Regions from separate parts of the Homo sapiens genome. Here regions 1, 3 and 4 are each linked to region 2. The links come from fine-mapping of genetic effects on plasma protein levels. A gene starts in region 2. Each other region holds a variant in brackets. All regions are shown on one strand. Distances are from middle to middle.

Region 1 (8,100 bases), 25 kb before region 2:
GTATTTGCAATAGCCATAGAAGATCCGGTGTTGCCTCTTCTGCTAGTTAAAACCAAATCTAGAATGTCTGCCTGTATGACTAAGACCTCTGAAAGTGGATCAAAAGAAATTAAATTGATGACAAGTTTCAAGCCTGGGAGTTACCCTACATTGATAAGTTATGAGGTAAATTGGGGCTTCTGATTTGTAACAGGCAGGGATGAATTGGGAGGAAGAGTGTCAGAATTCTCAAGTAATGTAAATCTGATAATTGCTATGAATTTCAGTTACGTTATTTATTGAATTCAAGTAAAAGGGAGGGAATTCATCCTTGAAAAAAAAGTGCTTCTCAAGAAATGCAAGACAGCTATTCTTATTTGGATATCTTTACGAATTTCTTACTTGATGAAGTCTAGCAGTTTTGCAAACTTTGCATATTGGCATAGGCTGCTTTCTGTATCACAGATACATAATAAGATGAAAGAAAGTGATCAGAATAAAGATTAACTATTAAATTTTAAGTAAGAAAATATTGCATCAAATACTTTTCTGTGCTGTGACTAGTTTATAAATGTGTCTATACCTATAGTGCACACATTATACTCACATGTGTTAATGCTTTTGACATCTTTTCTAATCCACGTAATCCTTTAAAATATTTCTATAGTCTGTTCTTCCTCCTTTGCTTTTTAATGTTACGATGTTTGGTCTGTCTCTTAAGTTTTGTATTTTCCTCCACCAGTTGATTTATCTGTTCCTACAATAATATTAAATTTTTGTCAACAAATGTTTGAAGTCTATCTTAATAACTAATATGAAAAGATAACCCAATTAATTCTTTCTTTTTTTTCTTTTTCTTTTCTTCTTCCTTTTTTTTTTTTTTTTTTTTGAGATGGAGTCTTGCTCTGTCGCCCAGGCTGGAGTGCAGTGGCACACTCTCGGCTCGCTGCAACCTCCACCTCCTAGTTTCAAGCAATTCTCCTGCCTCAGCCTCCCCAGTAGCTGGGATTACAGACATGCACCACCATGCCCGGCTAACTTTTGTAGTTTTAGTAGAGACGAGGTTTCACCATGTTACGCAGGGTGGTCTCAAACTCCTGAGCTCAGGCAACCCACCCTCCTTGGCCT[C/T]CCAAAGTGCTAGGATTACAGGCATGAGCCACTGCGCCCAAGCAATTCTTCTTTTAAAAGTTTACTCAGTTATTCATAAGCCACTTAAAATTTGTATTGGAATTAAAGTAAACAATTATCAGGTTAGTTTAGGATTGATATCTTTATGCTAACATGTACCATTTAAAAGCATTACAAAACTCTCAATTTATTCAGAACTTCTGCTATGTTCTTTATTAAAGTTTTAAGATTTTTTCCAAAAAGGATTTTTAAATTTGTTTTGTTGTTTCCCAGATACTGTATAGTTTTTTTAACTGTTATAAGTGTTTCTTAAATCTTATATTCTAGTTGAGTGTTTCCAGTAATAGAAATGGTATTTTTGTAAGTTGATAGTGCATCTAGCAAAATTGTTAATTTTGGTGTGTTCTCCAGATAGATGATCTTATCATTTGAAAACAATAACAATTTTACGTCTTCTCTTACAAAAGTTACAAATATTTTATATATAATAATATATTTTATATTATTATATATAACATAAAATGTATACATTACATTACTTGTATATATTATATATATATATATGTATATACTTTCTTTTCTTATGGCTTTGATTAGGATCTCTCCAGTACTGTGTTAAATAAAAGTGTTAGTCATTCTTTTCTTGTTCCCAATATTAAATGAAATGCACCTAGAATTTCTCCAATAACCATTATATTGGGTATAGATTTGCAGTATATGCTTCCTACCAAAGTAATGATCTCTTCTATTTTTTCTTTAAAAAAAAAAAAAAAAAAAAAAACTACATACAGGGGTTGAATTTAATGACGTATTTTTTGTCATATTACTTTGCTTTAGTCTGTTAATGTGATGAATTTTACCAATGAATTTTCTAATTTTGAATTATTCTTGCAGTCCTCATATAATTTTACTTGGTCATGATATTTTTAATATATTTTTGAAATTGATGAGTTAATATTTTGTTAGGATTCTTGCAATTCATTTATGAAGTGGGCTTATGTATTATTTACTATTATTCTTACGTCTTTTATGAGTCAATCCCGGAATTATATCCACTCCTCAGATTACATTTCAGGAAAAAACAGCATTGGGAGGAAGTAGTCAAGCTAATTTGAACCATACAACACTAGGGAGTAAGAAGGCGTGAGTATAAGAGCACTGGAGAGTGCTATCACACATGACCTTATTATCATTGGTTCTTCACACAGGATGGTACTTTCGTTTTTTGTTTTTTTTTTTTTGGTGGTTTTTTTTTGTTTGTTTTTTTTGTTTGTTTGTTTTTTGTTTTTTGTTTTTTTTGAGACGGAGTCTCGCTCTGTCGCCCAGGGCAGTGGCGCGATCTCGGCTCACTGCAAGCTCTGCCTCCCGAGTTCACGCCATTCTCCTGCCTCAGCCTCCCGAGTAGCTGGGACTACAGGCTCTCGCCACCATGCCCGGCTAATTTTTTGTATTTTTAGTAGAGATGGGGTTTCACCGTGCTAGCCAGGATGGTCTCGATCTCTTGACCTCGTGATCTGCTCACCTCGGCCTCCCAAAGTCCTGGGATTACAGGCATTAGCCACCGCATCCAGCCCCACACAGGATGGGTCTTACAGTTCTTCGATGCTACTTTGCTGACACATAGCACTAGAGCAAGCGTTTTTCTGTTGTTGCAGAATTTTGCAAATAAAGAGGAATCGATTGTTTTGAGGCAAGAGTAGAAACTAACAGGCATTACTTTAGACCAACCACTGCTGTTGGATGCAGCACTCCCCTCTCCTTCACATTCACTATACACAACACACACACACACACACACACACACACACACACACACATCCATATACACATTCTAGAAGTCATGAGAGACTTTATTCTCCTCAGATTTTCTCACTATCTTTTCAGTATTTTCTTGGAATCCCTGTTTCCCTCTTGCTTCTATAATTTTTTCAGAGTTAATTTTGGGGTGGCAGCAAGAAGCTTGCTTATTTTGATATTGTGCCTGAAATAAAAGCCAAAGGCTTGCTTTATAAATAGACCATTTGATTAATTCTTCTCTTAGCACTAAGCAAATTTGTCCTACTTCCTAATTTGCAAATCCTTATTTCCACAAAATGGACTGTTAAAGCCAGATATGCCTATAGAAGTTTTTGTAGATATATGTTGTCAGTCAATATGCAGTGATATCAGGTCATTTGATAAAATGATTTCCTTTTCCAAGGGAGTGTTTCAAACATACCAGTGGTCCTAACATCAGTGTGAAGAAGGCACAGTATGTTACAGTTTAATTGTATTATATACATTTATGCTTCAGAAAGACACAATTTGCTCTGCTGTAGATCTGGAATTAGTAGCAAACCATCACTATTTGAAATCATAAATCTTTGAAATCCAGGGACTTGGTTTTTCTCTAATCACACTTGAGATAAATTATTAATTTCTTTGAAAAAGGAAAACCAGAACAGAACAGAAAACCATATAAAAGGTAGGACTCAGTGACTTACACATAGCAAAATAACTCTTTCAAGTGAAATGAATTAAGAGAAATCTACTGCTTATTTCCAAGGAATAGTAGAAAATAATGTATAACTAATACACTTAGAAATTGCTTCATGGAAGTGAATGACAGGAGAGGCTATTTTTTTTTCATTCTTTCTAGTACCTTCTATGTGACGCTACTACTAAATGGAATTGCAAACAAATCATTTTCCACTTGCACCTGCTATTTACAGTAGTCCCTTGGGAGGAGAGGTGGGGATGGAGTGAAATATTACAGCGACTCTCTGTCACCATTATTGGTCTTAAAGCTGATGTTACATCTTTATCATATTTATCTCATTCAAGTTGTTTACTCCCTGAGCCCTGAATTGTGCTAGATTCTTCCCCATCTCTCTCCATAAAGCATTGGAATGGATCACTGTAAAAGGAAATAAAATTTTACTCTCCTCTTTTGCACACATGAGAAAATTCAACCAGCTCCCCCTCTGGGTACTTGAATGATGAGCTCCCGTAATTATATACCAGGACTCTGAGGGCAAGAACCAAGTCTTGTTCACTTGATCATGTGCAGCAATATTATAACATGTTATCCTGAATAGAGTGTACAAAACTTGATAAATGTCTCCTAAAGGAAAGAAGAATACCTAATTGTCTTTGACTTACAAATGAAAATAAGAATCTGTTTTTCCTCTTTTGCTCTCAAATTCTGCAGGAGACGCACTAGAGGGCCCATCTCTAAATACAGCACACTAGGAGTTAGGGCATCAACATATTGATTTAGAAGTGGAAGCAGGGCCAGGTTAAGTTATTTCTGAGTGAGTTTCAAGGTCTATAACACTAGTAGTTTGAAATCTTCTGGAGCTCCAGATCTGCATTCTGGCAACATCATTTTTCGTGGATTCTTTTTTTTTTTCAGACTTCAAGTGTATTTATTAATGCATTGGACAAAATAAAACCACACTTGTTATCAAAAGTATATCTCCCCTGCTCCCATTTTCTTGTTCTTCCATTGGAAATATCTTTGAAAAAGTGATACAAATGGATACCAGCAAAGTCCCATATTTGCGGGGTGATTGTGGGGCGATGCTGGGACGAGATGGTTTGTGACATTGACTTTAATAGCATGAAAATGGGTTTTGCAAGTGTATATCAGGCTGCATCCCAATACTTAGATTCACAGTGGGCGGGGTGGTGGGGTGCAGAGGTGCTGGTTAGGAGAAGGAAAGCTGAATTTAGTGCTGGGAACCAGTCTGGGGTGGAAAGCTCTTCCTCTGGGAGTTCTGTGGGGATTTGGTGTTAGCTAAGTTCATAGTCTAAGGGAGACCCAGTCCCAGCCCCCAGAGCTGAGGTTCAGGAGGAACCAGTGAATAACTAAGAAGGAAGAGCTTTTGTAGGATGAGTCACTACTTCTATTAACGTTCAGTCCAAATCAGAAGGCTAAGGATCTACCATATACTATTTGTTCTGCTTTCTTGTTTTTAAACTTAACACTGAAGCATAAGCTTCTTCTCTGAGGTTACAAAACAACCATAAATGTATAGTGGTTTTTATGTCTAATATACTGCCATAAGAGGATGTATTCTCATTTACTTAGACATTATATCTCCCTATTGCTAGGCATGTAATTAATTTACAATGTTTTAACCCTTATAAATGATAACATGATGAAAATTTTATGCTTAAAACTTTTTAGTATAGTTTATAATTTCAGTAGAATTCTAAGAAGTTGAATTAGTGAGATAAAGAATGTGAACATATTAAGGATATTAATACAGATAGGGTGAGTAATCCCTTAAACATGAGAATCAAATTATTACCTTTTTGTTTTAAGATCCAGAGGAAAAAAATGTTGCCTTTTTAAATTTGAGGCATGGTATTAAAGAAAGTTTTGAGAGGAAAGGAGTTAGGATGCTGGCTGCATGGGTAAACTTGAAGAGAGTAGTTTAAAGGTATGCATAAAAAGCATATACGTAGAGGACTTTCTAGGGTTTGAAGAATGGCAAGTATATGAGCCAGATCCCTGACGGAAAAGAACTGGCACATGCTAACTTTTAATTTGAAGAAATGTTAATAAGGTTATATTTATAAAAGTGTAGACAGCACTTAAGGAAATCAGCAAGGGCTAATGCAGTAGTATCCCAGTAATAAACACAGTTGGAAGCTACTGAATTGTTATTGTGAAGAATCCACTCCTACAACCTAAAGACAGTAGTTACACAGAGAAGACTGCGGAGCTGCGGAAGAAGGAGGTAGAAAGTCCTTAGCATTTATAGGCATGCTTCAAGGGCTTCAGTCGGGAATTTTGGTTTGTTCTTTATAGTCCCAGTTGAATGCATACTTTGAAAGCTGAATCCACTGTCATTCTGCTGGCTCCATGTGACAAGTCTTCTCCTGTTACATTAATAATGAATTTGGGATAATGGAGGTCATTACGTTTCTCCCACCCCCATGTTACTCAACAGCATGTACCAATCATTTTAATGCAGATCCCTGTTCCACCGGTTTTGTTTTCCCAGCAATGACATTATTCCCAGTGCTGTTGTTCCTGGTTGCTGGGCTGCTTCCATCTTTTCCAGCAAATGAAGATAAGGTATGGTTGAAGTCAAAAATCTTCAGAAAAATTCAGGCAACCATGAGGGATGGCAAGCTACTAGATCAATCTTCAAAAGTGAAAAGGTCTAGAGTGTCTGGTACATCATAAAGTACTCATTAGTAGCTCAAGGTAGTTAACATAATTATGTTTAAAGCTGTGGTGATCAATATGGTAGCCCCTAGCCACATGAGGGTATTGAAGTTCATTAATTAAATGACTTTGCTCCACCCCGCAAATTGCCTTGGAGATTTTTTTTAATGTGGTAAAACTATCTTTTGAGTGATCCCATAATATTTGCTACGTAATACATAAAACTCTTTTACTAGAGTATTGCATGTTACACATGCACTTAGGCTGAGCCTAAGCATTTTTTCTAAATACCAGACACCATTTCAGGCAGAAATTCCCCCTAGAGTCTTAGGGTAAATCATATGCCTCAATCTTTACAACTTCTTTGCTGCAGCCTGAGTGTGAATGTCTTAATAATTACTATCATGTACCCTTGTCACTATAAGATGTTATCACTCATATATTTAGAAAAATCACATTAAGACCTCTCTTAACCCAGAAATTGGTATTTGTGGCCTCAGAGGAGATTTTAGTTTGTCATGCCATGAATTATATCCCCATTCTGAAAACTTTCATCTAATACTTTTCCATTAAAAAGTCATAGCTTTGGCAGTCATTGACAATGTTTACCTAGCATTGGCAACACTTTTTAAAAATGGTCTTTGTTCCCTTGAACTAACATAGTTACTATTATGTGCAATTTCCAACAATGTTAAAAGATAATTGTAATTTTATTTTCCCTTAGGATCCCGCTTTTACTGCTTTGTTAACCACCCAAACACAAGTGCAAAGGGAGATTGTGAATAAGCACAATGAACTGAGGAGAGCAGTATCTCCCCCTGCCAGAAACATGCTGAAGATGGTAAGAGGTGATATTGCAAAGGAGAGGGGTGTGAACAAGCTGTGGAAGGAGTAGGCGGCTGGCAACTAATATCTCTTAATAACTTTGAAGTTTACAAAGTTCTCTCTGTATTTTTTTGTTTCATTTGAGCTGTGTAATGGGCAGAGCTGAATTTCTTAACTTCTCTTTATAATGGTTGCATAACGTCAAATTCATAGGGCTATTTAAATTATGGAGGCAGAATTAAAACCTAATCTTTGGACATACGGTGAAAAGCCATTATGTTTTTCTGCTCCTTATCTTATCTGTCCTAATCTGAGATCAGAAAGACCTTTTCCTTTTAAGATAAATGCCATGTAGGGTAAATAACAATCTACTTTTCTGGGCCCTGTACCAAAGGCCACATGTCTCCCGAACATATTCAGTGAGGGGGAAAAAAAGAAAAAAAGAACTGGAAATGAAGTAAGCCAGCTAATTACTTCATTGTTGGAAAAGCAATCTCAGCACCTCCACATGTTTATCAATATTTAGAACAGGACCATTACAAAAAATCTTTAGGTGTTTCTGATGTCCTGTGATAAATAATTGGACCATAAACCTAGATTTTTTGATTACTTAGGGTAGGCATATTACCTATATTTCTTTGTGGAGCAGATAAAAGCACATAAAAAATATATACATTTGATTACTATAAAAATCAGAAGATGCTTGTACAGAAATTTTATGATGATGTAAATCAACCTATAACCTGATTATAAAGCTTATGCTCCTTTGAGGTTTGAGACATTAAGTGGATATCTTTTTTCTGTCCTTGTTTCAGGAATGGAACAAAGAGGCTGCAGCAAATGCCCAAAAGTGGGCAAACCAGTGCAATTACAGACACAGTAACCCAAAGGATCGAATGACAAGTATGTAAATTAGGAAATATTTGTTGAATAAATCAACAAGTAAAATAATAAACCATGTTATGATGTTGCATTAAGAAAAGTTTGTAAATAAATATTGCTTCTAA
Region 2 (8,112 bases):
AAAAATGGGAAACTGGAGAGAGAATTATGTTTCAAGAACTATGGTGTACTTGCTCTTAGATTCTAGTCTCATCAGTTGTTTTGAGTTTTTTTCTGCAATTTAGACTAACCCTGCTTATTCCTGTGAACCAACCAGCAATCTCTGGCTGCTGCTCAGAAGAAAATAAAGGAATGGGTAATGTAAAAATATGAATCAATATTCCAATTCTGGGCACACTGGAATCAGCTAGTGACCCCATATCAGCTTGGTTTCAATAGTTGCCCAATTCATGGAAAGCCTTCTAATTTAGTTAACTTAGGACAATTTTGCTTATTCTGCTTTACTGTTTTAAAATATCTTGCTGTTGTGCTCTTTGTGTAGGAATAGAGGATAAACTTACTCAACTTTTTAAAAAAATCTTCCAGATATCACCTTTTCTTGGAACTTAAGAGTTATGAATGGCCTTCATCATACTAATGCATTCTGACTGAACTCCTCTGTACCCTGAACACAAGAGACCCTAATAGTTACACAGAAATATCATTGCCCCATTCAGCCTGAAGAAGTTAAAGAAGATGAATCTTCATCCTTCTGCAACTGTTAGGATTAAGGGTTCTTTTATAAAAGGGAGAGGAGAAATGTCAGAGGAATGTGAACCGGAGCAACTCCATCTTAAATAGGGGCTGGGTAAAATGAGGCTGAGACCTACTGGGCTGCATTCCCAGACAGTTAAGGCATTCTAAGTAAAAGGATAAGATAGGAGTTTGGCACAAAATACAGGTCATAAAGACCTTTCTTGTAAAACAGTTTGCAGTAAACAAGTCAGCTAAAACCTACCAAAACCAAGATGGCAACAAGAGTGACTGCTGGTCGTCCTCACTGCTACACTTCCACAAGGGTTGTGACAGTTTACAAATGCCATGGCAATGTCACGAAGTTACCCTATATGGTCTACAAAGGGGAGACATGAAAAATCCACCCTTTGTTTCGTATATAATCAGAATAACCATAAAAATTGGCAACCAGCAGCCCTTGGGGCTGCTCTGCCTATGGAGTAGCCATTCTTTCCTCTAACAATTTGACCTTTTGACTTGGGGTTTTATATGTTGGCATACTTCCAGGGTCTTGCATTACTCTTCCCTTGGATTAGGCCATCTGCATGTGCAGTAGCCTGCTAGCACTTGGGAGCAGCCTCATGCACAGTGTGTTTAATGGAGTTGTACACATGCTCACTTGAGAAATTTTTTCTGTACCAATACAGTGTTTCTAGAAGAAGTGTTTCCCCTTGATTTAGTTCTAGAAAGTCCTTTCGTTCTCTGCCTCTAGGCCCTATTCTCCTGCCTCAATTTCCCCCTGAAAGATGTGATCTCCATAAGTCTTTATGGGAGGTGGAACAACCGATGGTCTTTCTTCTGTAAATGCTTTATGACTGGTGTGGGGATCACAGACCTCTTGCCTTGCTCTCTCTAGTGAAGGAAGGGTAGCTCCTTGATGGCCAGGGGAGGCATCTTCACCTGGAACTGGCTGGAACCCTTGTCACATGATCATCTAAAGCTTAATCGTCTCTAGGCGAGAGGAAATGAATTGGGTTAAAGATTTAATGGGAATTTTAGGGGGTGGATACCTATTCTTTCAGCAATGTTTGTTATGGAAATTTGCAGGAGAAAAACAAAACCTGGTCTTTTCTAGGATCTATGTGTTTCCTTAATGTCTTAGCACAAGCGACTCTGTTTTGGTTTGGTTTGGTTTGGTCTTTTGGGGCCTAGTGCATGAACTCAGTCCAAAACAATTGCCTCCTATGCTTTTGCTTAAAAAGAAAATTCCCCCCTTTTTGATAAGGTTCTCACTTAGGTGAGAGTGTGACCAAAACTTAGGGCCTTAGCACCACTCTCAGTTACCATTATTTCGGGTTTCTGGTCTCACCACATCATTCATAGGTTATGGTGTCCTCATGGTCACACATTTCTTTCAGCTCTTGTCATTCTAATTGAAGAGAGACCATTTGACATTCTAGCAATGGCTGCGTGGAAGCACTTAAAACCTTTGAGAGAATACAGTGTACCAGGGAAACTATTATTATGACTATCGGGAGGATAATACCAAGAGTTTGGAGTATGCTCTTTACCCAGGTTACCCATAAACCAAACCACCTAAAATTAAATAGATCAAAAAATGAGCTAAAGAGTCTACTTACTTAACTAAGCAATCTCTTCATTTATCCTCTACAGCTAAATCTCTATAGTCTTCATCTGATGTATTTCTCCATAGGCCACAAGTGCCAGCAGCTGCACAGATACTTCTCTATTCAGCCAATTCTATCATAATTTTCACAAGAGAATTTAAAGTCTGGTATTTAACTATATCCTATACAGTAGAATCTGCTATAGAGCCTACTATGAGGAATGCATTTCTAATCATTGCTTCTTTTACTCCAAACCATAGAAAAAGGAACTAACAAATGATGCCCTTCTAGAAAAGCAAAGGACTCCTGGCAATGTTCTTAGAAGTACCTGTACTATTCCTCTCAGTAATGGAGATCTACTTTCCATGTGCTCTCCAACACATTCAGGCACCAAACTTACAAGTCTTCTATTCTGGATTTGCCCTTCATACAAAATCTATCAACACTTTTTAAAAATCTCTTCATATTCCACCCTTTTGTCCTATTTCTACTACTACAAAATTAATCTGGGGAATTGTTACCACACTTATTTTTGCTGCCATCAATTTCTCAGCTCTGTAAATCACCCCATGCAGTGAGATCAGGTGGCTTTTATGAAACATTCTTTTGATCAAAGAATTTCCCAACCCTCCAAAATGTCAATGAAATTACTTTCCCATGTTATACAGAGAAGCAAATCTCCTTAGACTTCTATACAAAGTTTCCCCAACCTTTTCAACAGTCTTTCTGTCTTGAATATGCCTTGTGATATAATGATTTATCTGCTTTTGTTCTTCAACTCTTTCTCCCTTCAAATCAAGCCATACGCATTATTCAATAACAGTTCAAATGTCAAAACTTTCCTAGGTTTTACCCAGATCATATCAACTCACAGAACTCTCAATTACTGTATATATTTTTGGTCGCCCTACTTAGCATTAAACTACACTACCTAATAGTATTCTTTACTTATTCATATACATACTCCTTTCTCTCATAGTACTATGAGTCTTAGAAGAAAGAGATTTTATGTCCTTTTTTCTGTATTTTCTAAGAATCTATGTCGGGTCAATATTTACTCACTTAACAAATATTTACAAACTACCACCTATATTTGGTATTGTGTTAGTTTTGGAGATACAGCAATAATCAAGACAGACATAGCCAATTTCTGAAATTCAGGTTCACCAACAATATCTGGCACCACAGCGCTCAAGTTGCTCTCATTCTGATATCATCAATGTGAATATGGGAACAAGTAATAATTACAGGAATGACTCTTCTCCAAAAATGAAAAATAAGATATTCACAGTAAATGATAGACTATTATAGTGCTGAGAATGAATTGTTCGGCACTAGAAAGAAAGAACAAATAGGTAGGCAGAGATTTTGTGCATATAGGTATTTGAAATGTCCAATTAATAACTTAAGCAAGATATGGTGAAAACATGAATATAGAAGTGAGGGACAGATTGAGGACTAGATTTCATAAATATTTAGAAAGGCAAACTGTCAGTAATGAATTTTGATATTGGATGTAGATATAAGCGTTAAGCAGTCTAAATTCCAAAATTTTTAGTCAGTGCTGCATGAACTGAAATAAGCAGCAAAAGAAAACTAAAACAATGTCTGTGTGCTGATCCCTTGAAATTACCTTGTAACACTGCCAAAGGAAAATGGCACTGAGCACCAAGTTTGTTATAGTTTCAGTTGTGCCCAAGTGAGTCTCCAGAGTTGGTGAAATCTCAAGCCTCTTATTGCATGGCTTACAGAGAACCAAGGTATGACGGATATTAATCCTTGGCTTGACATCTTTTGACCCATCTCTCTTCCTCTAGGTCATAAGCGAATTCACTCCTTTTCGCTTTGAAAACAACTGTGAATAGAAGAAAATGCACCTATTACTCATCCGCCTTCTGAGAGAGAAAACATGTCTTTAACCCATGCTTGATACGTATGCTAAACTTGCAGCCAGTAGCCTTGGGTCAGGAGTTCTGCGTATTTTCATAAGAGTTGTTCCTGTTACTCTTCGTGAATTTTCTCACCATAAAACTGTTGCCAACGGGGAAGAGGGACAAGAACATGAAGTGTTTATGAGGGAGCCTGAAACTGACAACCTGTGTAACTGGAGTGCGTCGTTGGCATGACACTGGCAGCGCACTGCAAACTTAAGCACCTGTGGACTCCTAATTAGCTCTTTAAATTGAACTACATTAATTCAGGCATTCTTGTTTGAATGCGAACGCCTCCTTTTTCAAGCCACCCCCTGGGCAACCCGAATCCTTATATGACCTCCCTCCTCCTCCTAGTACGGCGCAGGTATGCGAACAGACATTTTCTTTCCTCATCAACTGGTGGTAATGAGAAAAAGAGAACTCTGCTTTTCACAAGGGAAAACGTGCAAGATTTTCTCCGTAGTAGGGGAGGCGGGGGCGATGGGAGGAGAGCAGCTCACGTAGGCAGATAGCGGCGATGAAAGCATAAAGCCCAGTGACGTCGCCCACACGTGGCGCCTGGCAAGTGAACAATCGCGGTGAGAGGGGCGCGCCGCAGCTCCTCAACGCCGCAACGCGCCGGCCCAACTGCAGGAAGGTCTGTGCTCTGGAGCCAGGGTAAATGTAAGACCCGGATTGGAGACTAGAAATGGCTAGGGACGGGGAGGTGGGGTGAAGCACAGGGGAGAGAACCATCGTTGAGGTGAGGGGGTTTCTGATCCTCCTTCGCTCCTCTTCCGGCATCTGGAGGGCACATAGCTAATGCCGGGCAGACTGAGAGTTCAATTTTGTTGCTTAGCGCCGACCTACCATAACTTTCAACATGCTTCTCTATGTTTAGTCTATTGAAACTCTTTACCTACCTTAAAAGAGAAATCATTCTAAGTACATAAGACCCATTGAATCATAGTAGAAGCCTGAAGTCATTTCTCAATCTGCTTTTTACGAAGTCAAATTAAGACTCTTAGTTTCTAATTGATGTTTTGAATGTACAGTTATTAGAAACTGTAATAACAATTAGAGTTGGGGTCATTGACTCTGCTGGACTTTATATCATCTATTGGCTTCCAGAATTTAAAAAAAAAATGAAGAGACAAAGCTGTTACCCCCAAATCCACGTAGTTAATACTTACCATGTGGGACACTGCTTATGGAAATGATCTTTTAAAGAATGGGTTGAAGTCCTAGATAAGGGGTTGGGAGTCTTGAAAAAAGGTTGCAATTTTCCAAGCAAGTTAGCCAACTAGTAGTTACTGAACTTCAAGAAGTCCACTTTTTTGTTAGTGTTTGAAGGAAATATCAGGGCGTTGAAATACAATCTGACCTCAGAAGGACAATATGGTCTTAACGCTGAAATCAAATAAATACAGTAAATTATTAGAAACAATACTAAACAATTGAGTCAAAATTTAAGTTTGTGACAAAGATTATAGATACCATCTATAAGGGTATTCTTCACATCTTTATTTTAAATATTTTGTTTCCTTGTTCTAGGGTTATAAAATTATACACCATGGCCCTCCTAAAGACACTCTAGGAAAACCATGTCATCCTGATCTTAAAACACCTGCAAGAAAGAGCACAGTACTTCACCATTAGTAAGTAGCAAAGAAAAAAAATGGTAGCCAACTTTTCAACTATATATCAATATGGGTTTAAAGGAATAAAATGTAATTATATGGAATAGAAAAAAATATTTTTCCTTGAATATACTCTCACCAACAGTGACATTGCTTTCATTGACTCAATGAAGATGAGTATAGGTTAGATGGTTGAGGTTATGAGAGAGAAGAGCAGCAAAGAGGAGAGTATGGCATCATGGCCTATTATAGAATTCTGGCTCATCAGATGCATACACTGGGTGATTGAGCTATACAAAACTCTTCAGGCTCCTGTGTATGGCTTTCAATGAGCTGATGAGGATACAACAGCCCAGATGTTAGAGCATTTTCCTAAAGTCAGCCAGAAGGTGTCTAATAGAACCAGGCCTTGAACATGTGAATCTCGAATTAGATTATACTGATTGTATTTTCCTATAACACCTGGAAGGAAACACATGTCTCTTAAACACTTAGTAATTAGCAATTCAATCAAACAGCATATGTTTATAGAAAGCTCTTATGAGCTCAACAAACTAGCAGACATTGCAAAAGATAATAAAAACATGAATAATTTCCGTTTATTTGTATTATGTGCATAATGTGTTTATTGTATTAGAGGTGTTACATACATTGTCCCTTCCAGTCTTCAAAGCAAAAACCTGTGATATAAAAATCTACATTTTACATAAGAAAAACACTGAAGCTTGGCATAGATTTCCCAGACCTGATGGTTTCCAAAGAATGCACCCGTAACCAATAAGCTACAGGTAGTTGATAATTAGAAAGTAAAAATCATAGACAGCTGAACTATGAGAGTTCAGCTATAAGGCAGAATCCTGGTAACCTTCACAGTAGTTAACCTGTCTTGGGTTGTCAATATAGAAATACTAGTCCAAAAAGGCCACATGCAGATTATCGTGTGCCTAAGGAGAAGGGAGAACTGATTAGAAAGGGAGGGCATGATTTACTTACTCATGTTAAAAACTATGTGGGAAGCAAATAATGTCAAAAGCATTATCAGACAACTGACAATGAAGTTTAAGGTTACTGGTATGAAAAATACTACTTCAGAACTTTGTTGACTTAGATTTATTTAACAAAACCAGAGTTTGACAAAACAGGAATATGTGTAATATATATGCTGCTCTAAACCTTCCACCTTCTTTCTTTCTAAAGATAAAGTAGATATTTCATCCTGCTCAGAAAACCAACAGTAAGTGTTAAATCATTGATTTTAATGTGAATATTTTATCATGCCAATCATTTTTATGTTGTCAAGGGTAAAATGATTAATGAGTTTGCCCATGATTTTATTTTTTTGTTTTTTGTTTGTCTGTTTGTTTGTTTGTTTTAGAGACAGGGTCTCTTTCTGTCACCCAGGCTGGAATGCAGTGCTGTGATCATAGTTCACTGCTGCCTCAAACTCCTAGGCTCAAATGATCATCCCACCTCAGCCTCCTGAGTAGCTGGGACTACAGGCACTTGCCACCATGCCCAGCTAATTATGTTTTGTTTTTGTTTGTTTGTTTTTAGTAGAGATGAGGTCTCACTGTGCTTTCCAGGCTGATCTTGAACTCCTGGGCTCAAGTTATGTGCTCTCACCTCAGTCTCCCAAAATGTTAGGATTATAGGAATGAGCCACTGTGCCTGGCCTATCCATGATTTTCAAAACTTTAATAAATTTGTATTGAGAATGACCTCAAGTTAATTTTATTCTTTTACAGTTAAGAAGGTAAATTACAGCAATATTACGCACACACACAAAAAAATTTGATATGTAAAAATTTTTTACATTTTATTCTAAAAATAAGTAATGGAATTAATTCTCATGTTTGTGACTTGAGACAATTATACTAGAACTACCTTTAATAGGAAAATGGAAAAGTATGGCTGTTTAAGTATATTGTATAAGCTGGCATATTAATGATTTTACTATTAACATATACAGTTATGTATTAATAAGGGAATTATTAAAGTAAAAATAAAGGGTCTCCATTGTGCTGCAACAATGTCTGCCTTTTCCCAATTAAAACTGTGTCTCTTTCAATGAGTCAATGTCTCTTTCAAAGTCATTGACTTCGAAGTCATAATTGGATGAAGACTAATTTCTGACATTACCTAAGAACGTAGCATTGGCATAGGTTAATTAACTGTCTTAAGCCTCAATTACATCATCCATACAATATAAATAGTAATACCCAGTAAGGTATGGGAGTGAAATTGTATATCATTTTCCATGAACCGTCAATAATTGTTCATCCCTCATCCCTTTTTTGCACATAATTGAGCATAAAGGCAATGGATGGAACAAGTATCAATGATACACTATTTACAGTAAGTGAAGCCTGAGAAGCATCACAGATAAATTGTTCGGAAT
Region 3 (8,112 bases), 37 kb after region 2:
AGACCAGTGGAACAGAATAGAGAACCCAGAATTAAGACAGCACACCTACAACTATCTGATCTCTGAGAAATCTGACAAAAACAAGCAATGGGGAAAGGACTCCCTATTCAATAAATGGTGCTGGGGTAACTGACTAACCACATGTAGAAGATTAAAACTGGACCCCTTCATTAGACCATATATAAAAATTAACTCAAGATGGATTAAACACTTAAATGTAAAACCCAAAACTATAAAAACTCTGGAAGACAACTTAGGAAATACCATTTAGGGCATAGGCATGGGCAAAGATTTCATAATGAAGATGCCAAAAGCAATTGCAACAAAAACATAAATTAACAAATGGGATCTGATTAAACTAAAGAGTTTCTGTACAGCATAAGAAATTATCAACAATTAAACAGACAACCTACATAATGGGTGACAATTTTTGCAAACTATGCATCTGACAAAGGTCTAATATCTAGCATCTACAGGAAACTTAAATTTACAAGAAAAAATAAAACCTCATTAAAAAGTGGGAAAAGGATATGAACAGACACTTTTCAAAAGAAGACATTCATGCAACCAACAATCATACCAAAAAAGTTCAACATCACGGATCATTAGAGAAATGCAAATCAAAACCACAATGAGAGACCGTCTCACACCAGTCAGAATAGCTGTTATTAAAAAGTCAAAAAATAACAGATGTTGGCAAGGTTGTGGAGAAAAGGAATGCTTATACACTGTTGGTGAGAGTGTAAATTAGTTCAGCCATTGTAGATGACAGTGTGGCAATTCCTCAAAGACCTAAAGTCATAAATACCATTCAACTCAGCAATCCCATTACTGGGTATATACCCAAAGGAATATGAGTTGTTCTATCATAAAGACACGTGCACATATATGTTAATTGCAGCACTATTCACAATAGCAAAGACATGGAATCAACCTAAATGCCCATCAATGATAGACTGGAAAAAAGAAAATGTGGTACATATACACCATAGAATATTATGCAGCCATAAAAAAGAATGAGATCATGTCCTATGCAGGAACATGGATAGAGCTGGAGGCCATTATCATTAGGAAACTAACACAGAAACAGAAAACCAAACACCACATATTCTCACTTATAAGTGGGAGCTAAATGATGAGAACTCATGGACACATACAGGGGAACAACACACACTGGAACTTATCAGAGGGTGGAGGATGCAGGAGGGAGAGGATCAGGAAAAATAACTGATGGATACTAGGCCTAATACCTGGGTGATGAAATAATCTGTACAACAAACTGCTATGATACAACTTTACCTATGTAACAAACCTGCACATATACCCTTAATTTAAAATAAAAGTCGGCTGGGTGCAGTGGCTCACACCTGTAATCCCAGCACTTTGGAAGGCCACAGCTGGTGGATCACCTGAGGTCAGGAGTTCGAGACCAACCTGACCAACATCGTGAAAACCTGTCTCTACTAAAAATACAAAAATGAGCTGGGCATGGTGGCACATGCCTGTAATTCCAGCTACTTGGGAGGCTGAGGCACAAGAATCCCTTGAACCCAGCAGGCAGAGGTTGCAGTGAGCCAAGATCGTGCCACTGCATTCCAGTCTAGGTGATAGAGTAATACTCCGTCTCAAAAATAAATAAATAAATAAATGTCAAAAAAAAACAACAACACTGAATCAGAAACTGGGGTAAGATTCAGCAATGTGTGTTCTAACTATGAAAATTTGTGATTGACTGACCTAAGGCATGGAATATGGAAGGCAGACACCAAATTTGACAGACTCCAGTGCAGTCATTAGGGGAGAATATTCCACCCAGGACAGGACTCTTCCATTAACCTTATTGTGAGCTGAATAAAATTCCTCTCAAAACCATTTCCCTTTGCTCTCATTTTAAGTTCAAAAAACAACATTTTTATCACATTGCTTAGCTTTCTAAATAACTTGTCATGATAAAAAGAGGAGTCCTTAAAGGTGAACAGAATCATCCTAATCTTGAACAGGTGGCTAATACTGTACCTTAACTGACAGACTCAAGGGTGGCAAACATCAAAAGCTAGAATGCAGTAGTAACTAAGATGGAATTTAGGTTAAAAATCAATTGTAAAAGAACAAGTTGAGCAATACTTGGTGCATAAGTATCTCATATGACAAAGACTTAGAGCTTTTTTAAGTGCAAAAATGACTTATGACAACAGTATGATAAGACTACCAATGTGTTCATGCAAATCTAAATTGCCTTTATAGGAAAATGTTCACTCAATAAAAGTCTCATTCTAAAGTGCATTGTGCAGAACATAAGCAGAACATTATATTTTATTCTGATATTAAATGTTAACAGAATACTTGAACTGGTGTCTGAAGTATAGTGATAGGGAGGCAAAGTGTATTAAAATTGTCCCATTCATTAGGACATCCCACAGAGCCAACTGGGACACCAATTCTGTGGCATACAACAGACATAAGTAGCTACGATCATTTTGAGGAGTCAGGGACATTCTTATGCTTGCTTTGTTTTTGGCACTGTGGAATATTAAGTGGCCACCTAACCTCTTTTTCAGGTGAAAGACCTTTGTAGGAGGAATTCAAATGAGACAGTATCAACTTGATGCTGCTCCTGCTTAGTGTACAGTGATCAGAAGCGTGTGGGCAAAGACTAGTTCTAATGGTAAAACACATGAGTGCATCAGGCTAGAGATGCTCTTTACCTCCTTCAATTTAAATCCCGATGCTATCACATTTACACTCTCTGCAATTACAAATATCCCAATCCCACCGGAGAAACAGAAAGCCAGGGAGTCGGGGGGAACTAGTTAAGAGATGAGACAGCAAGTTGCACTGGTTATAAATAACTTTCTTTTGTCTCCATTGTACAGATTCGTCTGGGAAAGTGTAATAAGATGGAAATTTTTTCTCCCAAGTTTTATAGAAAAACCATACACTGTAGAAAAGCAATTGGAGTTTATTTAAGCCTCTAGAGTTAGAATGGCATTTCTTGGAATGTGGACCCATGCTGAAATGGGGACACAACACTGCTCATGTGAACTGTGCATGCCTCATCAACCCAATCAGTTTATATAAGCTATTTGGAGTAATAGATGATTTTTCTCTAGTGCCCGCTAAAGCGCTTAGCACCCTGTAGATCCATACTGATGTTCAGGGTATACTTGTTGTGTTGAATTGTTTCTGAACACCTTTCTAGTATTCTATTTTAGATATTATTTTTGTTTTATAATTCTGAATGCAGTTCTTTGGATGTACTCACCCTGCAAGTATGTTATCTCAGAGCTCAGAAGTCCTTCTGAGGTTCCATGGCCCTTCACTCTGAGAGACAGAAACACTGGAACTCCAGCAGAGGAGGTTGCAGAGATCTTTAGTAGGAGTTGCAAGTCTAACATTGATCCTAAACCCAGTTTCTCTAACTCCAGTATCAGTGATCATATCAAGAATTTACAATTGAATACCATTATTTCTTATGTATCCACTATAATTATATTTGCCTTCATTACCTATTTCCTTATAAAGTTCCAGTCCTTTAAAAAATTGTCTTTCAGGCTTTCCCTAGACTTCCTTAAGTGTATGTTTATTCATTATTAAGCTTGCTGTGTGTTTAGCTAGTCCTCTGTTTAGTATCCTGCACCCAGTACTCCACTTGACGTTAGCTATTGAGTAATAATTTAATGAATAGATACATAAGGAAATAAGGAATGAAAACAATAATTCCCACAGGACTGTATTTTGTGAGATGGACATTATAAGAAGCTACTCATATTGCCAAAGAAATCCTTAATGTATTTCCTGCTGTAAGTGTATGTGAAAGAACACTACCTGCCCTTCAATCTACCAAAAACAAAGAAGAGAATAGTTGTCATCCGTGCTCCTTTGGTAAACAAGAAACATCAACTCTATGGGAGGAAGGAATAAGAGCCAACTTCCCTTTGAAACATAATAAATACAAGGAATCATAAAAGTTTAGTTGAATGCCATGTTCTCACTCTCTCGTTAATACAGTGTTTTTTATTTCAATATGGTAAGTTGATATCCTAAATGCTTGGGGCATGTAAATTTGAAAGACAAAGTAAAAATATCTAAAAACTTAATGGAAAGAACGTATCACAATACATTTGATCAACAAGAATGAAACCATCGCCAAGATAACTTTATAAAATTGATTAAGAGACTCTTGCATGATTACCACTACACCAGTGGTGCTGCCAAAGTTGATTAAGGAAAACAATAAAGCTCACCTAAGCTGGCAGCACAATCAGCACTAATCATTAAGCCAGCTTGCCCTTTCGTCCTCTTCCTTGTAACTGGTCACTGCTTACTACCCCAGTATAAGGTAGCCCTTGTCAC[A/G]AGACTTTTTGTTCCTTTTCTGTTCCATAGATAAAATCTAAGGCATTGTGAGATGATAATCTTTGCTTTTGAATTTATTCTTTAGGTTCCACATACCAACAAAACTAGTGATGCCAGCTGCTCTGAACGACCTAGCAAGAAACTGACTCATGGAGGAATGCAGTTTCAACATCCTGATGATTACATCCCCCTTACCCTGACCAATCAACAATCCAAATTTTTCAGCTTCTCATCCTCCACAGTCTCCTTAAAGGACCCCTTCATGGAGCAAATTTGTGGCTTGAGATTTCCTCTCATTTCCTAGTTCAAAGGCCTTGTGATTATTAAACTCATTCTCGGCTGTAAACCCTGCTGCCTCAGTGTATTGGTCCATTGCTGCACAATGAGCATACAAACCTGGCAGTCCTGTAACACAAACACAGAAATTAAAAGGCAACTGTGGACATTGATATACAAAATTTATATTTATGATTGTACACAGACTGGATAACCAGCAGATTATGCCTAGCTCTGGCAAACACAATATAGTCTTTCATTTAAAAATATATTGAATATATATTGACACTAATATGTCTTGTAAATGCTGATTAGACTTTATAGAAGATACTAGTCTCAATATATTAAAACAATGTGGATAGATTTTATGTTATCTTCCAAAATGAAGATCTCCATTTACTGGAGGTGATCATTACTAATAAGGATGCAAATTCAGTTTATCATCTTTATTGGCAACTTGAAGTGATGAGTTAGGGTGCTGACTTGCCAAATTTTTTATTGAACTGCAGCTGTCAGGGATAACAAATAATCTTAAAGTCAAGGTTAACAGGGCAGAGCCAGCAGTTTGGAAGGCCAAAGTGGGAGGATCACTTGAGCCCATGATTTTGAGGCCAGTCCGGGTAACATAGTGAGACCTCATCTCTACTAAGAACAATAATAATAATAAAATTAGCCAGGCATGATGGTGGACAGCTGTAGCCCCAGCTACTCAGGAGGCTGAGATGGGATTATCACTTAAGCCTGGAAAGTCAAGGCTGCAGTGAGCCAAGATCATGCCACTACACACTAGCCTGGGTAATAGAGCAAGACCCTGTCTCAAAAAAAAAAAAAAAAAAAAAAAGTAGAGAAAAAGACTTTGGTTTTGTATACATTCAGGTCACTAAATCAAGGTGACAAAGTAGGTGAAAAACTAAATTAATTTTGTTTTGTTTGGTGGAAAAAAGTAGGCACTAGTCCAGTTCTGCCTCCTGTGACACCATATGAATAAACAAAAAGCTCTAGAGAATAACAATCTACATCTGCTTCCATTATGTGAATTCACACATCATATAATATAATCACTTAACTCTCTGAGTCGTAGTTTTCTAAGTGAGAAAATAAAAATTCCTGCCCCATTACTTCAGAATCTTGTAATGTCACAACATTATATTTCTGAATATTTTGTGATGGTAAACATGCAAACATTAGACATCATTATTATTTTGCTTAGACTACATGAAGATATTATTTTCTAAAGTATGATTATATATGGGAGTTTTTAATAAAATATGACTTAAGAGAAAATACTTGAAAACCATGACCTATTACAAATTCTTGAAACAAGGGAAAAGATTGGATTTGTAAGAATCTGAGAGCCATCTGCAAATCTCATTAAACTGTATTCCCTGTCTACTAATTATGAATGTCTTATCTCCACCAATTCAATTCATCATGTACACTGCTACCAAACTATTCTTCCTGGGTCATAACTTATTAAGTGTTTCTTTTCTGCTTAAAAATCCTCCAAAACATTATCTTTCCTATAGAATACAGCATTTAACTGGAAATATTATGATCTTTCATAAATTGGTTATAAACTCTATTCCCAACCTTTTCCCCTTCCCAATAGTTCCCAATGCAACAATTTGGGAGTCTGTATTAATCCTTTCTCACACTTTTATAAAGAAGTAACCAAGACTGGATAGTTTATAAAGAAAAGAGATTTAATTGACTCAAAGTTCCTCATGACTGGAAAGGGCTCAGAAAACTTACAATCATTGCAGAATGGGAGGCAGGCACCTTCTTCACAAAGTGCCAGTAGAGAGTGTGAGCATGCAGGAAAAACTACCATTTATTAAATCATCAGATCTTGTGATAATTCACCCACTATCATGTAAACAGCAAGGGGGAAACTGCGTCATAATCCAATCACTTCCCTTCCTCGACACATGGGAATTACAGGTTCCTCCCTCAACACAATGGGATTACAATTCTAGATGAGATTTGGGTGGGAGCACAGAACAAAACCATATCAGAGTCCCTATCAGATGGCATAGTAAGAATAAGTAGTTTCTTCTTGCTGTAGTACTCCAGGCTTTTCTGCTTTATCTCTCAAAGGAGTGATATGATGTTTTATTTTCCTCTTGATGTCACCAACACCTAGAACATAACTTGCTTTTAATACATGCATGCCAAATCCAAGATCTGTAATAGATAGTCTATAAATGTGAATTTTAATCTTACTCATCAGAGTGTACAATTTCAAAATATCATCTTTTATGTAAGCTCCCAATTAACTACATAGATATATTAATGCTCTCTTGTTATAAAAATCAGAAAACTTAATTCCAAATGACTTAAACAAACCAGGAGCTTTTTCTGACTTCGTACGACTAAAAAGTCCCAAAGTGGGCACACTGTTGGAGCCAAAACTTTTCAATATCATCAAGTCACCAGATTATCTTCTCTGTGGTCCTGTTGATTCTGTCTTCCTCCATATATTAGATTTACCTGAACATTATGTTATAATCTTATTTAAAAACCTGTAATTTTAAACATGAAACAAAGAGCAAGATATTTATCTTTTCAGTGAGTGGATTTTTACACAGCAGCATGGAATGAATAAAACAGATTTAATGTCATCTCCCAGCCTCCCTAGGCCAGACTTCAAAAAAAATAAGATCTTTAACTCAAGGGTGAAGCAATATAGCCTTTCAACACTTTAGACAGGGCACAAGACTGATGGCAGAGAACCAGATGGGTTAGTGAGTATGTTCAACATTCTACTGATTCTGAGAAACTGAGGTGTCCCTGTCTAGTTAAAGGACAAAAAGAAAGGTCACCGATCCATGTTAACTGATCTAACAGGACAGGCATGGGGTTCAGTATCCTGCTGCCTCAGACTTCCTAGAAAACACAACCATGGCGCCATGGGAGCCAAGAAGCAATGGGCTTCTTTCTTCTATGAGACTAATTATTACATGTAGTCACAGCTCTTACAAATAATGGTCTAGCATTAATAAACTAGGCCATCCATGAACATGTGACCCTTCCATTTTTTAAAATTATATTTTTAGTAATTGCATTACATTTTAAACATATTCACTCTTACATTATTATTATGTTCTAAGATGTCGGCCTATATTTAATATAACACCTAATGATTTCAAGTCGTTAAGGGGACACTTTGGTGATCCAAGGTAGGGTGTTTTCAACAGAAGTTGTATATGCAAGCAAAGCCAACACACACAAAAAGTTTTTTTTTTCTTTTATTATACTTTAAGTTCTAGAGTACATGTGCACAACATGCAGGTTTGTTACATAGGTATACGTGTGTCATGTTGATTTGCTGCACCCATCAACTCATCATTTACATTAGGTATTTCTCCTAATGCTATCCCTCCACCAGACCCGCACCCTCTGACTGGCCCTGGTGTGGGATGTTCCCCTCCCTGTATCCATGTGTTCCCATTGTTCAACTCCCACCTATGAGTGAGAACATGC
Region 4 (8,112 bases), 18 kb after region 2:
TTGGAAGTCAAATATTCAGGCATTCAGTGTTAAGCCATTACACTTTTTGTTAATTCTCTTTTCTGGTTTACAATCAAGAAATCCCCCTTCCTTCAGGATATGTGTCAGCTGTTGTGAGTAAAAGCCCACTTCCCAGGGCACAGTCCCTGAAAGACTGGTATCTCCGATATGAAAGCAATGGCTTACATATGAAAACAAATGGAATTGGAAATAACGTTGGCCATCTTATTACTATTAAAATATAATTAGAATATTTCACATGCTTATCAATATTTAGACTAGCATCATTAATAAATATCCTAGGTATGGCTGCTTTGCTATCATAAATAATCACATATTATTGTCTTATTTTGCTTTTTAGATATATTACCTATGGACTACCCATCATGTGTAAACTGGCACCAGAAGAGATAAAAACACTTAAAAACATTTTAATAACAGTAGTATTAGAGAATACATCTACAGAAATTTTAAAGTATTTACAAATCAGATTATAAAGTGTATGTTTCATTGTGGCTGAATCATTAAGTGTATTTTGTTTTCTTGTGACGTTTAGGAATGGAGCAGAGAGGTAACAACGAATGCCCAAAGGTGGGCAAACAAGTGCACTTTACAACATAGTGATCCAGAGGACCGCAAAACCAGTATGTAAATTAGTAAATATTTGTTGAATAAATAAATGAATAAAATAATAATAGAGCATTGTAGGATGCTCTATAATAAGAAGACTTTGAAAATAAATGTTACTTATACTGCTGTCTTTTTGAAGTCAAAGTATCTGTATACAGAGGGGTATTTACAATAAGAACAATTTTGTGTTTTTTTATTGTGTACATTATGCAAATAATTTTGCTTCTTGCAACCAGCTCATGAGTACAGCAGATTTTATATCATCTTTCTTTTTGTAAGTTTAAAGATTAGAAAGCCAGAATTTGAAAGAAAAGTGACTTACCCAAGAACATAATCTGAAACAGTGTCATACTAGAAATTTTTAACCAAGCTTTCTGATTTCTAACCCACTGCCCTTTTTGTTAATTTATGTAGCTGTCTGATGTTTTGAAATCTATTTTTTGTATCCATAAAATATATTGAACTTATGATGAATTATTCCTAAGTTTTGCTCTAAAGTGGATAAAAGTGGATAAAGTGGATTTAAATTTATCGTATTCAAAATTTCTATAAAAATGAATATTTTTGAATATATTAATATATTAATTTTTAATATCAGACTAGCAAGTATTTTGTGTGGACTGGATACCTACAATGCACAGAATACTATATTCGAGTTTTAAAAAGACATATCAAGGATTATAAAAACTAGTAAATGCCCAAATAATTTATGAAGTGTTTCTGGGCTGTAAGGCACTTCTTGACAAACTCACAAGGATTTCAGCTTGTGATATCTGATTTCCTGGTTAAGAGAAAACCCATAAATTTTGAAAACTGTTATCCTTCCTGGTGTCAGTTTTCTCTTGATTGGGACTCTTAAAGACAGCCTATAAAGTCTTTTTTTCAGATTTCACACAAAGTCTTATACATTTATTTGGGGTCCTATATTTGAAAAATCTCTGTTGAGGGTTACTAGAGCAGAAAACAGAATATAAGAGTTGGTCACTGCCTTTAGCAAGCTTACCATATACAGCTGGGAACACTCAAGGCATACACATGTGGAAAATTTAGCATGCAAGGGCATTTTTAAGGAGCAGAGTGTTAACCTACTCAAAGTTTTATGTGGTCAGGCCAACCTCAGTGTGTCAGGCAGTTAAGTGTTCTAATCAGCTTTATAGCTGATAAGGAACTGAGGCACTCCTTTATGTATTAATCAACAGTTAGCATCTGCTGGACCCTGGGTTTGAAAGGCAACATCTTTGTGTTTGTGTAGTCAATTTCTTTTACCATTGCATGTTTATTACCTTGCTCATGAATGATCTGCCCCTTAGGTACAAGATGTGGTGAGAATCTCTATATGTCAAGTGACCCTACTTCCTGGTCTTCTGCAATCCAAAGCTGGTATGACGAGATCCTAGATTTTGTCTATGGTGTAGGACCAAAGAGTCCCAATGCAGTTGTTGGACATTATACTCAGGTAAGAAGAATGCATGAAAATACCTATGTCACAGATGTTCTAATAGAGGAAAGCTTCTCCAAATTATGACCACTGTAATGTTCAATTTAGGAGAACAGTCCGAGTGGGTAGAATACAGTCTTGGCATTTGGCTGTTGTAGAGCTGTCATTTTTGTCCATGGTCAGCCAAACTCTTAGTAGGAAAGCAGACTCTGTATTGTTCCTACATTATAAATTTTAAAGTGATGAATGTACATGAAAATTAAATATTTTTAAAGTTTATGACTTTGGTTCAATAATTTAAATATTTTTATGGTATATGTCTATAAAACTAACATTTTTCAGTTTTATATTTGCTACTTTTTTAAATATTTTTCATCTTCTCTAATGTACTTTTATATATTTATTCCATTGTTAATTTGCAGCTTGTTTGGTACTCGACTTACCAGGTAGGCTGTGGAATTGCCTACTGTCCCAATCAAGATAGTCTAAAATACTACTATGTTTGCCAATATTGTCCTGCGTAAGTAGACTGTTTAGAGTTTAATGGCAATAATTCTATCTGCAATTTATTTTTTAATAATTCTCATATCTTAAACCAGAATGAAAACATATCTCAATAAAAGGGAGGGGATAAACGTTTGGAAATGTTTTTTAAGGTTGAGACACTTTCAACTTCTCAGAGGAGAACAACTTCTCACTTTCAGGTATAAAAACTGAAGCTCTCATTCCTCATTAACAGAATAATGTCTTTTCTTTCAATTGGCCTTCCCTCAGCTTAGGGTTACTCTGTGAGCATGTGTAATATGTATTTCTCTAGAATTGGTATCATCACATCTTGCTAATTTCATACTCTAGGAGTATAGATGCTTTAGGGTGCTGGTGAGATTGCAAATGGAAGATGGATTGTGATTTTGGCCCTTTCTGCTCAAATATTCCTACTTCTGCTTATGTAAAACACACACACACACACACCACCACACACAATTACCATTACAAATTATTCATTCATTTGGATTTCAATGGCTTTTCAGGACATCTTTATTTCAGAATACAGAAAAGATAACATCTTAAGTCTCTGATTCTCAGAATTGTTCACAGAAAGCTCTTTAACCATCTTGTAAGGTTTGATTTGTAGCAGTAAACATGCTTCTTCATTAAACAATATGTTTAGAGTTATCCACAATAAATCCTATGGATATTTTAAGAAGATATTCACAATATCAAATTTAGTGTTTGAAATTCTTTACTACTGGAGGCTGCGGTGGGGGGCACAGCTACAGGATTTGTTTCGAGACTGTAGATAGCGAAGATGATGTACGATTCCAGTTTGAGAAGTATAACCTCCAAAGTCATTTTCTTTAAAGTACCTATTAGGATTCAAGTAGAGAGAATTGAAAGGCCCTGGGAGAATGTATCCAAACTCACTTACTGGCCCTCAGAGGGAAGCATCAGCAGCCAGGTGTCAGAAGTGACAGTTGGAATAGATCATGAGGGAAGCCAAGGGAACTAGAACTTTTAAAATCCTTTTATATCTGTTTCACAATTTTCCAAGAGCTCATACACACACAGCTATATTCTAGGCAAAGAGACTGAGATTCAGCTGCACTTCCTTGGGTCCTTACCCCACTTGGTCTATTGAGATTTGGACTCCCACATAATTTTAAATGAATTTAATGGCCAATAGAATAATGATCATCATTATCCTATGGTTAATCATTGCAAAACTATTATATCCTGGATATCAGTATTTATCAAAACTTTTCTTTAATCTTTTTTTCTTTTTTTTTTTTTTACTTTAAGTTCTGGGATAACAAAAACTAATATTCCATTTTGGTAAATGTAAAAATCTCATACATGCCACCTCTAGAAGCTCACAAACCTTCCTAAGCACACTCCTACAAACACACACACCACTAACTACTGAAAAATCGCAACCTCCATCTGGAAGAAAAAAATACTCTGGAGCTATATTTTTCATAGTTTCTGTTAGAGATACTATGGAGTTTTTTCCATTTTTCAAATGGAAAATGATATTTTAACATTGCATATTCATTTCCTGCCACAACCTGCTACTCCTAGGATCTTCTCCTTTCCCTCTACAGGATGTTTTACCCCTAATTGGCACCTTGGGGTACACTGCCTTAGTAATTTGACTAAATATAATGGGAGATAAAGATAGTGTTGCCACACTGAATATACTCTCAAAATTTCAGACTCTTGTCATCAAATTTAGTTACCCAGCCTGTGAAATTATGGTCAAGAAGATATGTCCATGTGTGAAGCATTTTCTTAATTTGGATTGTTATCTGAAATACACATTGGGAATTGTAATTTTTCAGTTTTGTTAACATACTAAAAACCCTGAATAACTATTTATGTATATTTGATGACTGATACTGCCCTTAGAGTATAAACAGTAAAGTGAAAAATATTTGACATGTATTTCAAATTTCAGTGGTAATAATATGAATAGAAAGAATACCCCGTACCAACAAGGAACACCTTGTGCCGGTTGCCCTGATGAC[T/C]GTGACAAAGGACTATGCAGTAAGTTTGAAGTGATTAGCTTGCTATTATTTATTATAGAATTGATATTATCTTTTCTTTATATAATTTAACAAATCTCCTAACGTAATGAATTGAAATAATGTATTGGTGAAAAAACCCAAAATTATTCAACAAAGTATGCTTAAACAAACATTTTACACACTGCAGGAGCTACATATTATTTGTAATGAAAAGCATATTGCCGTATGTAACATAATGGAATATTTATCATCAATGTGTTTTTGTGGCTCTTCAGAGCCATTTAATATTAACCATATACCATTTTGGTAAATAGTTCAATTCTCAAAGTTCATATCACTATACCAAAAGTGGTATTTTAAAGGAATCAAAATGTATAAATCTAAAGTGTGAGACCACATTATGGCTCAGTCTAGACAGGCACGCCAAATATTACTGTTTATTTGTGCTAATGTGTTTGTCATGCTGATTTCCTCACTTCTTTTTTATAGTATAATTAGGATCATAGTGTTTGCCTTAATAAATGATTACTTGCCCTATAATTTCATAATTGTTTTGTGTACATTTTTATGACAAAACTCAATCTATATACAATATTGGCTCATAGAAACTGTGCACATATTTTTGCAAAAGGAGAAAATGAAATAAATACCATATATCTCATTTAATAAATTGCCATGAATAGAAGTAAAAATAGCTGCTGGCTTTCTGTAGTTGGGATACTTTTATTAAAATTATTATGAATGATAAAGTTGACACCATCACTGAAATTTTTACCTCTTCAATGCATTCACCTTTACTAAGCATTTTTTCTGACTCAGTTATATAGCTATATTTCAGAATATTAATGATACCAAAGCTATAAATCAGGCAGAGGTGGGCGGATCACAAGGTCAGGAGTTCGAGACCAACCTGGCCAATACGGTGAAACTGCATCTCTACTAAAAATACAAAAATGAGCCAGGTGTGGTGGTGGATGCCTGTAGTCCCAGCTACTCAGGAGGCTGAGGCAGGAGAATCGCTTGAACCCAGGAGGCGGAGATTGCAGTGAGCCGAGTTCGGCCACTGCACTCCAGCCAGGGCAACAGAGCGAGACTGTCTCAAAAAAAAAAAAAAGAAAAAAATAGTTGAATACTTATACATTTTGCTGAATGCTATTTGCTAACAAGTCTGGAATTCATCTGTCATGGTATCAGCTGGTATCAGCTGCTGTGTCCATGGGATTGCCTGCATCACCCCTCTCATAAACCCTAGGTAACACAGAGGGGAGAGAGACACTGTCCACTTGGGGGAAAGAGAAGGAAGTGTGTGGGGTACTCTGCCTTGGATTTAGTACTGAGCCTGCCACAACAAAACACACACCAGTAAGAAACCCACAGCTCCTAAATCCAGATTGGTATGCAGATTGGTATCCAGATTGGTGGGCCTCTAGACCCACCATAGCACCAAAAAGGAATCCACTGCCCCAGTGGGACAGACTCAAGTCCCAGTACTACTGGTCAACTAAAATGGCCTCAGACCCCAAATGAATTGTAGTAGCTGGAAAGTCATAACAGCTGCTGGCCTTGGGCAAGCCCTGGTTCTGTCCTGGTCTGAGAGTCCATGGGCTTCAGATGCATCAAGGCACAGTGCCAGCTGTGGCATCCAGGGAATTGTCCATGTCACCCTTCTCGTAACCAAGTTTGCAGCAAACCTGGGTTTAGAACATCATCTAATAATGAAATAACTGCCATCTTAGGAGACTTATTCGCTCCTTTAAATTCTTGGAAGGCCTTCTGAAGAAAAACAGGTACAAACAAGCCCAGACTGCAAAGACTAGGATAATTAATTCTTTAGTGCCTAGATATTGAGATAGTAATCCACAAGTTTCAAGAACATTCAGGAAAATATGACCTCATCAAGAGAACTAAGTAAAGTACCAGTGACCAGCCCTCGAAAGATGGAAATGTGTAATCTTTAGGGTACAGAATTCAAAATAGCTGTTTGGAGGAAGCCCAACAAACTTCAATAAAACACAGAGAAACAATTTAGAAATTTATCAGAGAAATTTGAAGAAGAGATTGACATTTAGAAAAACAGAAATCCTGAAGCTGAAAAATACGATAAATAAACTGAAAAAAACATTAGATGGTCTCAACAGCAGAATTCATTAAACAGAAGAATCAGTGAGCTTGAAGACAGGCTATATGAAAAAGAGAAGGAAAAAGAATGAACTTTCTTCATTTCCCTTAGATTGTGGGTGGTGCAGGGAGATCACTGCTGAGAATTGTCAGCCTTTTAGCTAATACAAGGAGTTTAATTTGAGTTTTATTGAGTTTGAGGTCCCTAGGGAACATCCAAGTAGAAACATCAAAAGGAAAAGGGCGTATTGTCCTTGTTTTACACTTTTATCCACCCATAAAGATTATTTACTCAAAAAAAGCATTGGAGTGTAATGCCATGCTGCCCAATATTATGATATGATGGAAAGAGTCTCTATCAACATGTGCTACTAATCACACTTTGAACACTTGAAATGTGGCTAACAAGATTAAGAAACCAAAATTTTAATTTTAATTTAAATACCTCTGTGTGGCTAATGGCTCCCATATTTGGCTGTGCAGGCATAGAAAGATTTAATTACATTCATATTATTCTGCTTGCTGAGGGGGAAAAATAGGTCAATTTATTTTAGAAACATATCACTAAATGTGGAATTTAAAGAGTGATGGATTTATCAGTGAGCTCAACTAAGACACCTCATATGTCCCTGGATCCAGATAGACTGGATTAAGAAAATGTGGCACATATACACCATGGAATACTATGCAGCCATAAAGACATGAAAGACCCATTGTAGTGTAAGCGATGCTAACTTGTTTGTTCCCTCCTACCCCCTCCCCACACACTTTGAATGTATGGTTTTGCTCTTACTGAGGAAAACGATAATGAGTTAACTAATCTGTTTTTGTTACAGCCAATAGTTGCCAGTATCAAGATCTCCTAAGTAACTGTGATTCCTTGAAGAATACAGCTGGCTGTGAACATGAGTTACTCAAGGAAAAGTGCAAGGCTACTTGCCTATGTGAGAACAAAATTTACTGATTTACCTAGTGAGCATTGTGCAAGACTGCATGGATAAGGGCTGCATCATTTAATTGCGACATACCAGTGGAAATTGTATGTATGTTAGTGACAAATTTGATTTCAAAGAGCAATGCATCTTCTCCCCCAGATCATCACAGAAATCACTTTCAGGCAATGATTTACAAAAGTAGCATAGTAGATGATGACAACTGTGAACTCTGACATAAATTTAGTGCTTTATAACGAACTGAATCAGGTTGAGGATTTTGAAAACTGTATAACCATAGGATTTAGGTCACTAGGACTTTGGATCAAAATGGTGCATTACGTATTTCCTGAAACATGCTAAAGAAGAAGACTGTAACATCATTGCCATTCCTACTACCTGAGTTTTTACTTGCATAAACAATAAATTCAAAGCTTTACATCTGCCGTTGTCTTAATGACCTTTCTTT

Evidence for each region. A credible set is the group of variants that fine-mapping cannot tell apart. PIP is the posterior inclusion probability: the model's chance that the variant is causal. Protein levels are from the aptamer-based SomaScan assay of Sun 2018.
Region 1: its variant is the best candidate, but not a certain one, in a credible set for the plasma level of the CRISP2 protein (Sun 2018, PIP 0.73).
Region 3: its variant is the best candidate, but not a certain one, in a credible set for the plasma level of the CRISP2 protein (Sun 2018, PIP 0.76).
Region 4: its variant is the best candidate, but not a certain one, in a credible set for the plasma level of the CRISP2 protein (Sun 2018, PIP 0.69). The variant lies in the coding sequence of CRISP2. If it changes the protein, the assay may bind it differently, which can mimic a change of level.

The regions. Positions count from the first base shown.
Region 1 is chr6:49,735,400-49,743,499 of GRCh38, reverse strand. It overlaps CRISP3 (cysteine rich secretory protein 3), which reads left to right. Exons shown (of 8, transcript NM_006061.4): 2 at 6,102-6,175; 3 at 6,993-7,109; 4 at 7,909-7,996. Among named protein-coding and RNA genes, the nearest start is that of CRISP3, 4.9 kb to the left of the region's middle. The variant C/T (reference allele first, on the strand shown) is at 1,108.
Region 2 is chr6:49,710,121-49,718,232 of GRCh38, reverse strand. It overlaps CRISP2 (cysteine rich secretory protein 2), which reads left to right and starts at 4,690. Exons shown (of 10, transcript NM_003296.4): 1 at 4,690-4,758; 2 at 5,629-5,732; 3 at 6,912-6,948.
Region 3 is chr6:49,673,239-49,681,350 of GRCh38, reverse strand. It overlaps a transcript of CRISP2 not described here. Among named protein-coding and RNA genes, the nearest start is that of CRISP2, 36 kb to the left of the region's middle. The variant A/G (reference allele first, on the strand shown) is at 4,354.
Region 4 is chr6:49,692,336-49,700,447 of GRCh38, reverse strand. It overlaps CRISP2 (cysteine rich secretory protein 2), which reads left to right. Exons shown (of 10, transcript NM_003296.4): 6 at 557-644; 7 at 1,941-2,086; 8 at 2,491-2,588; 9 at 4,524-4,612; 10 at 7,548-8,089. The coding sequence ends at 7,675. Among named protein-coding and RNA genes, the nearest start is that of CRISP2, 17 kb to the left of the region's middle. RefSeq lists a silencer at 6,606-6,806. The variant T/C (reference allele first, on the strand shown) is at 4,594.